2 linked regions of the Homo sapiens genome follow. The protein of the gene in region 2 interacts with the protein of the main gene of each other region in a pairwise test. Each region holds a gene or a part of one and is shown on either strand. Other genes may lie near its edges.

Evidence for each region.
Region 1: the proteins of CYTIP (region 2) and ARX interact in a two-hybrid assay, tested with the Homo sapiens proteins (one large-scale study listed by BioGRID and IntAct).

The regions. Positions count from the first base shown.
Region 1 is NC_000023.11:25,013,166-25,017,631, forward strand, and holds the start of ARX (homeobox protein ARX), read right to left. Parts: upstream 2,801-4,466; 5' UTR 2,573-2,800; coding exon 2,377-2,572; intron 634-2,376; coding exon 1-633. UniProt on the Homo sapiens protein: Transcription factor. Binds to specific sequence motif 5'-TAATTA-3' in regulatory elements of target genes, such as histone demethylase KDM5C. Positively modulates transcription of KDM5C.
Region 2 is NC_000002.12:157,427,050-157,430,855, forward strand, and holds part of CYTIP (cytohesin-interacting protein), read right to left. Parts: intron 3,604-3,806; coding exon 3,510-3,603; intron 372-3,509; coding exon 302-371; intron 1-301. UniProt on the Homo sapiens protein: By its binding to cytohesin-1 (CYTH1), it modifies activation of ARFs by CYTH1 and its precise function may be to sequester CYTH1 in the cytoplasm.

The sequences.
Region 1 (4,466 bases), on a different chromosome or scaffold from region 2:
CTGCGGCCACGGCGCCAGTGGCGGCCACAGGACAGCGCCGGGGCTCCTTGAGCAGCGCGCGGGCGTCGTCCTCCAGCAGCTCCTCCTCGTCGTCCTCCAGCAGTTCCTCTTCCTCGTCCTCATCTTCTTCGTCCTCCAGCAGCTCCTCCTCGTCGTCCTCGGTGCCGGTGCCACCACCCGCAGCCGGGGCGCTGCCCGGGCCGCCGGCCACGCCGAGGCGCTCCTCCGGGTGCGTGACGCCCCCCGGGCCGCCCAGCTCGTCCAGCGCGGGCGGCGGCGGCACGAAGGGCGCCCCGTTCTCGCGGTACGACTTGCTGCGGCTGATGCTCACCTGCGGCGCCTGGCTGATCTTGAGCGTGTCCCAGGCCGCGGCGGCCGCGGCCGCGGCTGCCGCGGCGGCCCCTGCGCCGTCCGGCCGTTCCCCGGGCCGCGCGGTTGGCGGTGGCGGCGGAGGGGCCTCCCCGCGTGGACCCGCCGTGGCCGTGGCGGCCGCTGCCGCCGCCGCCGCCGCCGCCGCCGCCGCCGCTGCCGCACCCTGAAGGAGGCGGCCCCCGCCCGGGCCGTACAGGCGCCGCAGCTTGGGCGGCAGGTGCAGCTCGGCCTCGAACGGGGCGCTGCTGCTCTTAGGGGAGCCTGCGGGCAAGGGAGAGCTATCAGCCAGCCGGCCGGCCGGGGAGTCCCAGCCAGGGCTGCTGCCGGGGCCCGCCCGCAGTTGCTCCCCCAGTGCCTAGGCCCAGGCGTGCGGGGACCGCGCACCACCAGACTTCGACGCCTTGGCCTCTTTCTCCACTTTTCTTGCTTTTTCTTTTTCTTTCTTTCTCTCCTTCTCCCTTTCTCTGGGTTCCTTCTTTTTTCCCCTTTCCTCTCCCTTCTTTCCGTTCCCTCTCTCACTCTCCCCCTTTTATTTCCTATCTTCCTTCCCTTATCTATTCCTCTTGCCCCTCTCTCCCTTCCTTTTCTCTCCTTACCTTTTTTCTTTTTCTTTCTCCCCCTCCCTTCTTTTCCTCACCTCTCTTTCTCCTTCTCTCCCCCTTTCTTTCTCTTTTTGCAGGCTTTCTCTCCCCTCTCTCCTTCTTTCTTCTTTATTCCTTTCTCTTTCCCCTTTCCTACTCTCTCATTTTTATTTCCCTTCCCACGTCGGGGCAGAGGAAAATCCGAAAACATTCTACAACTTTAAAAGAAAATCACCACTATCCTGAAAACTTTGCGCATGACCTCTGCCCGCTGCTCCACCATGAGGGCAAGGGTTGGCAAGAGGGGTGCAGCCCTGAAGGCGACCGCTGCGGGGCGGGGTGGGGGAAAGCGGCCCTGTGGCCCCAAGTGCAGGCCGCGCCCCAACAGCCCACAGCGGGAGAGGGTGGGGGGGCTTCTTGCACAAAAAGGCAAAGAAAAATCATCCTGGCAAAAATGTTCTGGGAAAGGTCTGGGGCAGAGAGGGAGTGGGAGTGCAGCAGGCGCAGGCCGCTCCTTCCTTTTGAGGAAGCGCCTGGCATAGGTGCCACTGCAGGCTAAAAAAAGAAAAGAAAAAAGTCAGTTTTATTTAAATGCCCCCTTCTCAACCGTCTGCTCCTGCCATCCAAATTGCGCTATGGCCGGACCGCTGGTTTTTGGATTTTAAAAGAAACCAACAGTTCTTTCCTTTCCCTGCGACACCTCTGCAGCAAGCTCGAGGCGAAACTTGAGGATAACAGGTTCGGGGTAAAAGGACATTTGTTCTGGAATTTTTAATTTCAGAAAAAAATAAAATATTTTAAACAGCTCGTCTATTTTAAAAAATAAAATAGCAGAGAAAAAATTAGCATCCAGAAGTCACACATTTCATACATTTTAAATACATTAAGGAGCATTTGGAGAATCCCAGGAAGATGTTTTCTGCAAAGCTTGGGTTTAAAAGGTCACAAGTAATCTGCAATTAAAAAAATAAAACCAAAACATTGCATATACAGAAATCTTCCAAAGAGGAAAGGCCAAGGCTCACTCAGCCTGGAGACCCCGATTCACCAGCTTTTGGGCTTCTTGTCTTCATCAAGTTGGTGCTACAAGGGTCCACCGGCCATCTACTGTTTCTGACCTGTCGCCGCTCTTCAGAGCACACCCAAGGCCACCAAAAGGGGCATTTAAACAACCTAACGATCAACACCGAAAAGCTAAAGGCTCCCTAAGCGAAAACGGGCCTTTTTCTGGAAGCAGGGAGGGAGGGAGGGAGAGACAGCCCTGGCTAGATGTTTAACGCTCTTTGAGGCAGCAGGCCTCAGAGTTATGCCCTCTCCTTCCTTCCTCTCCAAATTGACAATTCCAGGCCACTGGCCCCCGAACACCAAACATCCAAATCAGGGCCCAATGCCCTTAGTAAGTGCCTGACGGGAGCATCCTTACCTTGCACGGCCTTTTCCGGGTCGGCGCGGCTGGTCAGCGGAGCAGGCAAGCTCTGCGCGGCTCCCAGCAACCGCATTTTGCACGGGCTCCTCCGGCCCAGGATGCTGTCGATGCAGTAGGAGGAGAGCAAAGTTGGAGATTTACTTTTGCACTCGGGCCTCTCGGAGCAGCCCTCCTCCTGGTACTGATTGCTCATGGCTGGGGCTTTTTCCCAGGGCGCAGAGAGCGGATCGCCGGCTGCCTCTCCCGGAGGGTGGGATGGATGGGTGTGTGTTGGGGGTGGGGTTAGATAGCGGGTTATAACGGATATTATTGCGATCTTTGTGCCTTTCTGCCTCCCTTGGTTGCCGGCTGCCGGCTCCCGCCCTGCCCGCGGCCCGAGCTCGCCCTCTCCGCGCTCAGGACAAGCGGTAACAAGTGTAGTGAGCAGCGGGCGCTGAGCTCTGGAGTCTCTCTCCTCCACGTGCTGAGAGGCGCCCTCTGATTGGCTCTCGCCAGAGGCCGGGCTGCGTCGGCCTGTGGGCGCGGCGCAAAGCCCGGACTGGATTCCAGAGGGGCAGGCGGGGGTGGGGGCAGCGGGCACGCACCAGAGCCAATTTTCCTTTTCTTTCTTTCTTTTTTTAAGTTACCAATTTTCTAAGTCCGCTATCCTCTTCCTGCAGCTCCTCCTTTGACCCTTTAGTGTTGGCCGAAGTTCTAGCTTATTGGGATGCCAGGCCTGTGAATGCCATCTGGGTGGCGTGCGCCCCTTCCACCAACCCGAGGACCTCGCTCCCTGGAGGCGAGGCCTCGAGGCTCACGTTCAGACTCACTCGGCACTTTTCAAAGCCGATATTGGGCTCCCAGGACACCGCCTTGACCTCCCTGGCGCTCAATTGCCGTCCTCTCTAGGCCGGACGGGCGTCGGGGGGCCAGGGTGACCGCCCCAAGCAAACATCTGCCGTCTGGGAGTTCGCTTTTCTCTTGCGGCCCAAGGCATTGCGCTGTCTATCTTCACCCTGAGCCCGACTGTGTCTCTCTTGTTTGTAGCGTCCCCCAACCGCTCTCCTCTCCGTTTTAAACTCTGGAATGGGAAAAAGCCTCCTTACAGACAAAGCTCTGCCATAGGCGCGCGGCCTTCCCTAGAGCATTTACTGGGTGGGAAGGGACAGGCGAGTATCAGCAGCGAGGAGGGGCGACTGGGGACGAGTCTGGGGGCCTCCTCTTTCTCCCTGGACTCTCTTCCCTCTTTCCCCCACAAATTCGTATCTGTTAGGCCTTCACCCTGAGGCTGTTCACCTTCCAATCGCAGCTAGGGAGCAGAACCCTCAGGGATCCCTGACCTCTCCAGGGTGGAAGGAACCCAAATTCGGCTGCAGCCAAATCTAAGCGTCTAAAATTCTGAATTCTCATGACCTGGCTCCCTTGAGCAAAGGTGAGAGAGTGAACCTTAGAGAGAGCGCCTTTCTTCCCAAACAGTTTCCAGCGCCGAGAACTAAAACCCAACTCCAACTGATGTTGGGTCGAGCCTGGGCCAGCACGGACGCCTTCCCTGCCTGGGTGCAGGTTCCCAGGGATTTCCAGGGGCCCCAACGCTGGCAGAATTGGGGCGAAGGTGGTGGGTGAGAGAGGGGCCAGGGAGGGGGAATCCACGCCGGGTTTTCCTCTCTCAACTCCCTTCAATGTGTCAAAGAGAAAAGCATTTTACAAAGGATTATACTTGAATCACTTACAGTCAGTATTTAAAAATACAAGGATGCATAACTGGGATTTTTTTTTTTCAGCCATAAACATCTGCATAACTCTTGGATGCTGGTGGGTGGGTAGCAGACAGATCGGGCTGCCTCCGCAGGAAACTTCAAGACAAAACTGGGGGGAGGGGATGAAGGGTTGGGAACAGGCACATTAATAATGCGAATACTAATACTGATACTACTACTACTATTAAAGACAGGACAAAAAGAATTCCTCTGTCCCTCTCTCTCTCTCTCTCTGGCTTTTAGCTTAATTCTCATCCGTTTTTTTCTGCACTTGGATGATAGGGCGGGCTGTGGTGGGGAGCGGAGGAGAACCCGAGCCATCGCTGACATTTGATTTTCCTTTAAGCCCTC
Region 2 (3,806 bases):
AATGTAAATCAATAGAGATCACAGGTGCACTAATGAAGAGTTCTTCAAGTGGCATGCCTTCCTGTTGCCTTTCTGAGCCTCATAGACACACAGAAGGAGGAAGGAAGAAAGTGATTTACACTGGTTTGCAGAATTTGATATTCCTCCAAAGGTAATTGTGCGGCTCTTGATAATTCAGCAGTTTAGATTCACCACGACATTTCTTTTTCAAGGGCTATCTCAGTTCCTCAAATAGATCTTTATTTTACCACTCACACATTCAAGGATGAAAAATGTGCCTCACTGCATTAAATTAAATTACCTTTAAAACCTGCAGCTTTGCTTCAAGCTCCGTTCTTTTCAGAATCATTGTTCCATTAAGAGTCTCTATCCTGTTTTAAGGAAAAAAAAAAGAAGAGGAAGGTGGGGAGTGAGTAACATGAGTGATTCGTTTAAATAAGTACCATACTACAGAGTACTACACTTTGAGCACATACTATACTAAAAACGAAATACAAATGTTACAGTTCTCATGGCACTTCGAGTAGCTGGACCAAAGCCAAATCTTCTGATAACAGAGAAAGAAAATGGGGGAAAACTCCCCTTGAGAAGGTGGCTAAAAGAAAGGATCCTAGTTAATTTGTAAACTATAGCTTATTTTATAGAAGTCACTATGTGACAATGATGGCTGCTCTCTACTAGAATCTGTTCTTGTGGGGATGGGCTGAATGACCTCACTCATTTGGTAAATATTTATTGGGCATCTACTATGTACCAGATTCTAGAAACCATGCTGAACACAAGGGGCACAACAACAGAAATAATAGGCTCTAGGGGCTTTCACAACCATGGAATTAACATGCTACTTCTTGAAAGAGGGAGAAATCCTTTCCTCCATAGGATTCTAGGAGCCTTTACCTCTGTAAATCTCCTTATAATTTTGGTACTAGAAGAAACAGAAGTACAACTACTATGACATAATAACCTTCATATGATTCTTTATCTCAAAACATTCAGTTTACAAACTCTAATCCTAGAATTATCAACTTACCAGTGTTCTGTTCTTCCCACACCACACACATTTCTAAAAATAAAATACTTGTTCTATTCTGAGTGATTTGATTTGTTCTGTGTGTTCAAGTTAAAGGCTTTTATTTTGACTACTAAACCATCAATCTGAATATGATTTAAAAATTTCATTTGTGAATCACACACCAATTTTTAAAGTGTTGGTTCAAGTTCCTTCTTGTAATTAAGCTGTACCTCTCTATAAAGATGCAAGGAATTTTTCAAGGCATGGTAAAAGCATTAAATGTGGAGATCAGTCTTCTACTTCTAATAGCATCATGCCAGGAATAATCAGGTGGTAGCAAGCTATATACTGTCTGTTTTCTCCTTAAGGTGATCTTGACTCTCTGAGAAATAGTGGGAATCCATATGAATCTGTTTCATTGGGATTGAATGTCAGTTTGACCTGCTGAAGCAATAGATGTGTATGGGCAAAACTGCAACCATTGATTTGGCCATTTTCCTCAGTATTTGTACAGACTGTCTCCCATTTTCCCGGATTTCCAACAGTTACCTCCATCTACAACCCCTATTTACCTGTGGTCTACCCTCTTCACCCATGTGGAACATGCTTTCTGACTCTAACTACCAGCAGTTCCCCTCAGACTCTGCACGGTTCCTCTCCTTTGGATCCAGGGTTCTCTAGAGCAAAAGCACCTCATCCTTTACCCTGAACTCACAGGACCTATAGAGTTGGACCCAATTTGTTACCACCACCATCTTTCAAATCTGCTCTCACAAACACCCAAAGCATCCTTTGAAGTTTTACACCAGAATCACTGAAAAGCATCCAGCAGATTTTCTACTGGCAGCTTCCAAGGAGCAGCTGTAGCTGAAAAGGACAGATCCTGGCATCCAGAGCAGGTGGTCAAACCCCAGCCCTATCACTTACCAGTTATGTGACCTTAACTAAGCCCCCTCTAAGCTTCAGGCACTTCATCTATAAATAGGAATAAAATTAACCTCATGGGTGGCTGTGAAGAATAAATGACACAATATATGACCCACCTCAATCAGAATAAAACCCAAACTTGTTGGCATGTCCAAAGAGATCCATGGTCTGCCCCCAGGCCAACTCTCTGGCTTCATTTCTTATTATACCCTCTCTAATCCATCAAATACCAATTATACTGTCTTTTTCTCTTTCCCTTGTACATGCCAAGCCCATTGTGAGCACTCAGAGACCTCTCTCTTTGCCTGAAGTGCTCTTACGAGGAGTTCATTTGACCATCCTTCTCTTCATTTAGATCTCAACTCAAATATCGCCTCCCTAGAAAAGACCACTTTACACATCTAAGCCAAACTAGCAGCCTTCTTACCTAGCATGACAGGCCATTGCTGTTTTGCACTTTTCTCATAGTAGTTATCAATAACTGAAATATACACATTACTTAAATTTCAGGCTTTTCTGAGCCATTTCCTTCCATAACTATTAACGTACTAAGAGAGTCTTTATCTTCGTCTCTCCTGAGCCTATCACAGAGCTGGAAACATAGTATTTGCTCAATAAATATGATTTTAATGAATGAGCGAATTTCATCATTTAACTATCCTAATAAGATTTTATTAGGTGCTAGTATTGTTATGGTAGAAAAATCAGTCAAACCTCTAATTGGGAAAGCCAGTGTTCTATTAAGAAGTTTGGGGCCAGGGGCGGTGGCTCATGCCTGTAATCCCAGCACTTTGGGAGGCGGAGGCGGGTGGATCATGAGGTCAGGAGATTGAGACCATCCTGGCTAACACGATGAAACCCCGTCTCTACTAAAAATACAAAAAATTAGCCGGGCATGGTGGTGGGCGCCTGTAGTCCCAGCTACTAGGGAGGCTGAGGCAGGAGAATGGCGTGAACCTGGGAGGCAGAGCTTGCAGTGAGCCAAGATCGCGCCACTGCACTCCATCCAGGGCGACAGAGCGAGACTCCGTCTCAAAAAAAAAAAAAAAAAAAAGAAGTTTGGAACATTTGGAACATGTGGTGTGAGTATGTGTGTTTCAGGGTGGGGAGGGTTGAACAGACTATTCTTCCTTCCAAATGGAACACTAGAAGAGAAAAACAGGTGGCTTGTCACATAAGAGGAAAAACTCAGCCCTTCTGACCTTTGATTTGTTTTAGCTACAGGATTATATCAACCATGAAAATTGGATCAGTTCTTCCCAGTTTAAAGAGAATGTGTGCCAGTTTAATTGAATTTGACATTAAAAAAATACATTTGTAAAGGCCATCCTTCCCACACAGACGTTTGGGCTATTGATGTCCTCTGACTTCAGATGTTGACAGTATGTTCAAGTGTGAGGAATCTTGAGAAACAAAAGGAACTGATAATGTTTGTACCCCACTCTAAAGCTCCGGTGCACTGCCTCACTCCGTCTTGTAATGCTGAACAAAAGGCCTATTTATTCACTCATCAGGCTTTATGAGAAAACATAACATTTTGAAGCCCCACGGGAACTAGACAGATAGTTACGTTAGCAGGTTTCCGGACGATCTGATCAGGTCAACGACTTGTTTGTAGGTAAAACCTTCTGTGCTCACACCATTGATATTTGCAAGGACATCACCTGGGAGATGCCAAGAAAAATGAGTGTTATGTTGGTTAGTTAAATAATCCCTCCTGACATGCAAATGAAACAAGCAGCTCCAAGTCTTAAAAACATAAAGGAGCCAAGAAAACTCAAAGCAACAAATACATCCTGACCTTCACTCTCAAAACATTTTATTTTCTTTCCATTTAAATGATTCCTAACATGAGCAAAAATTTAAG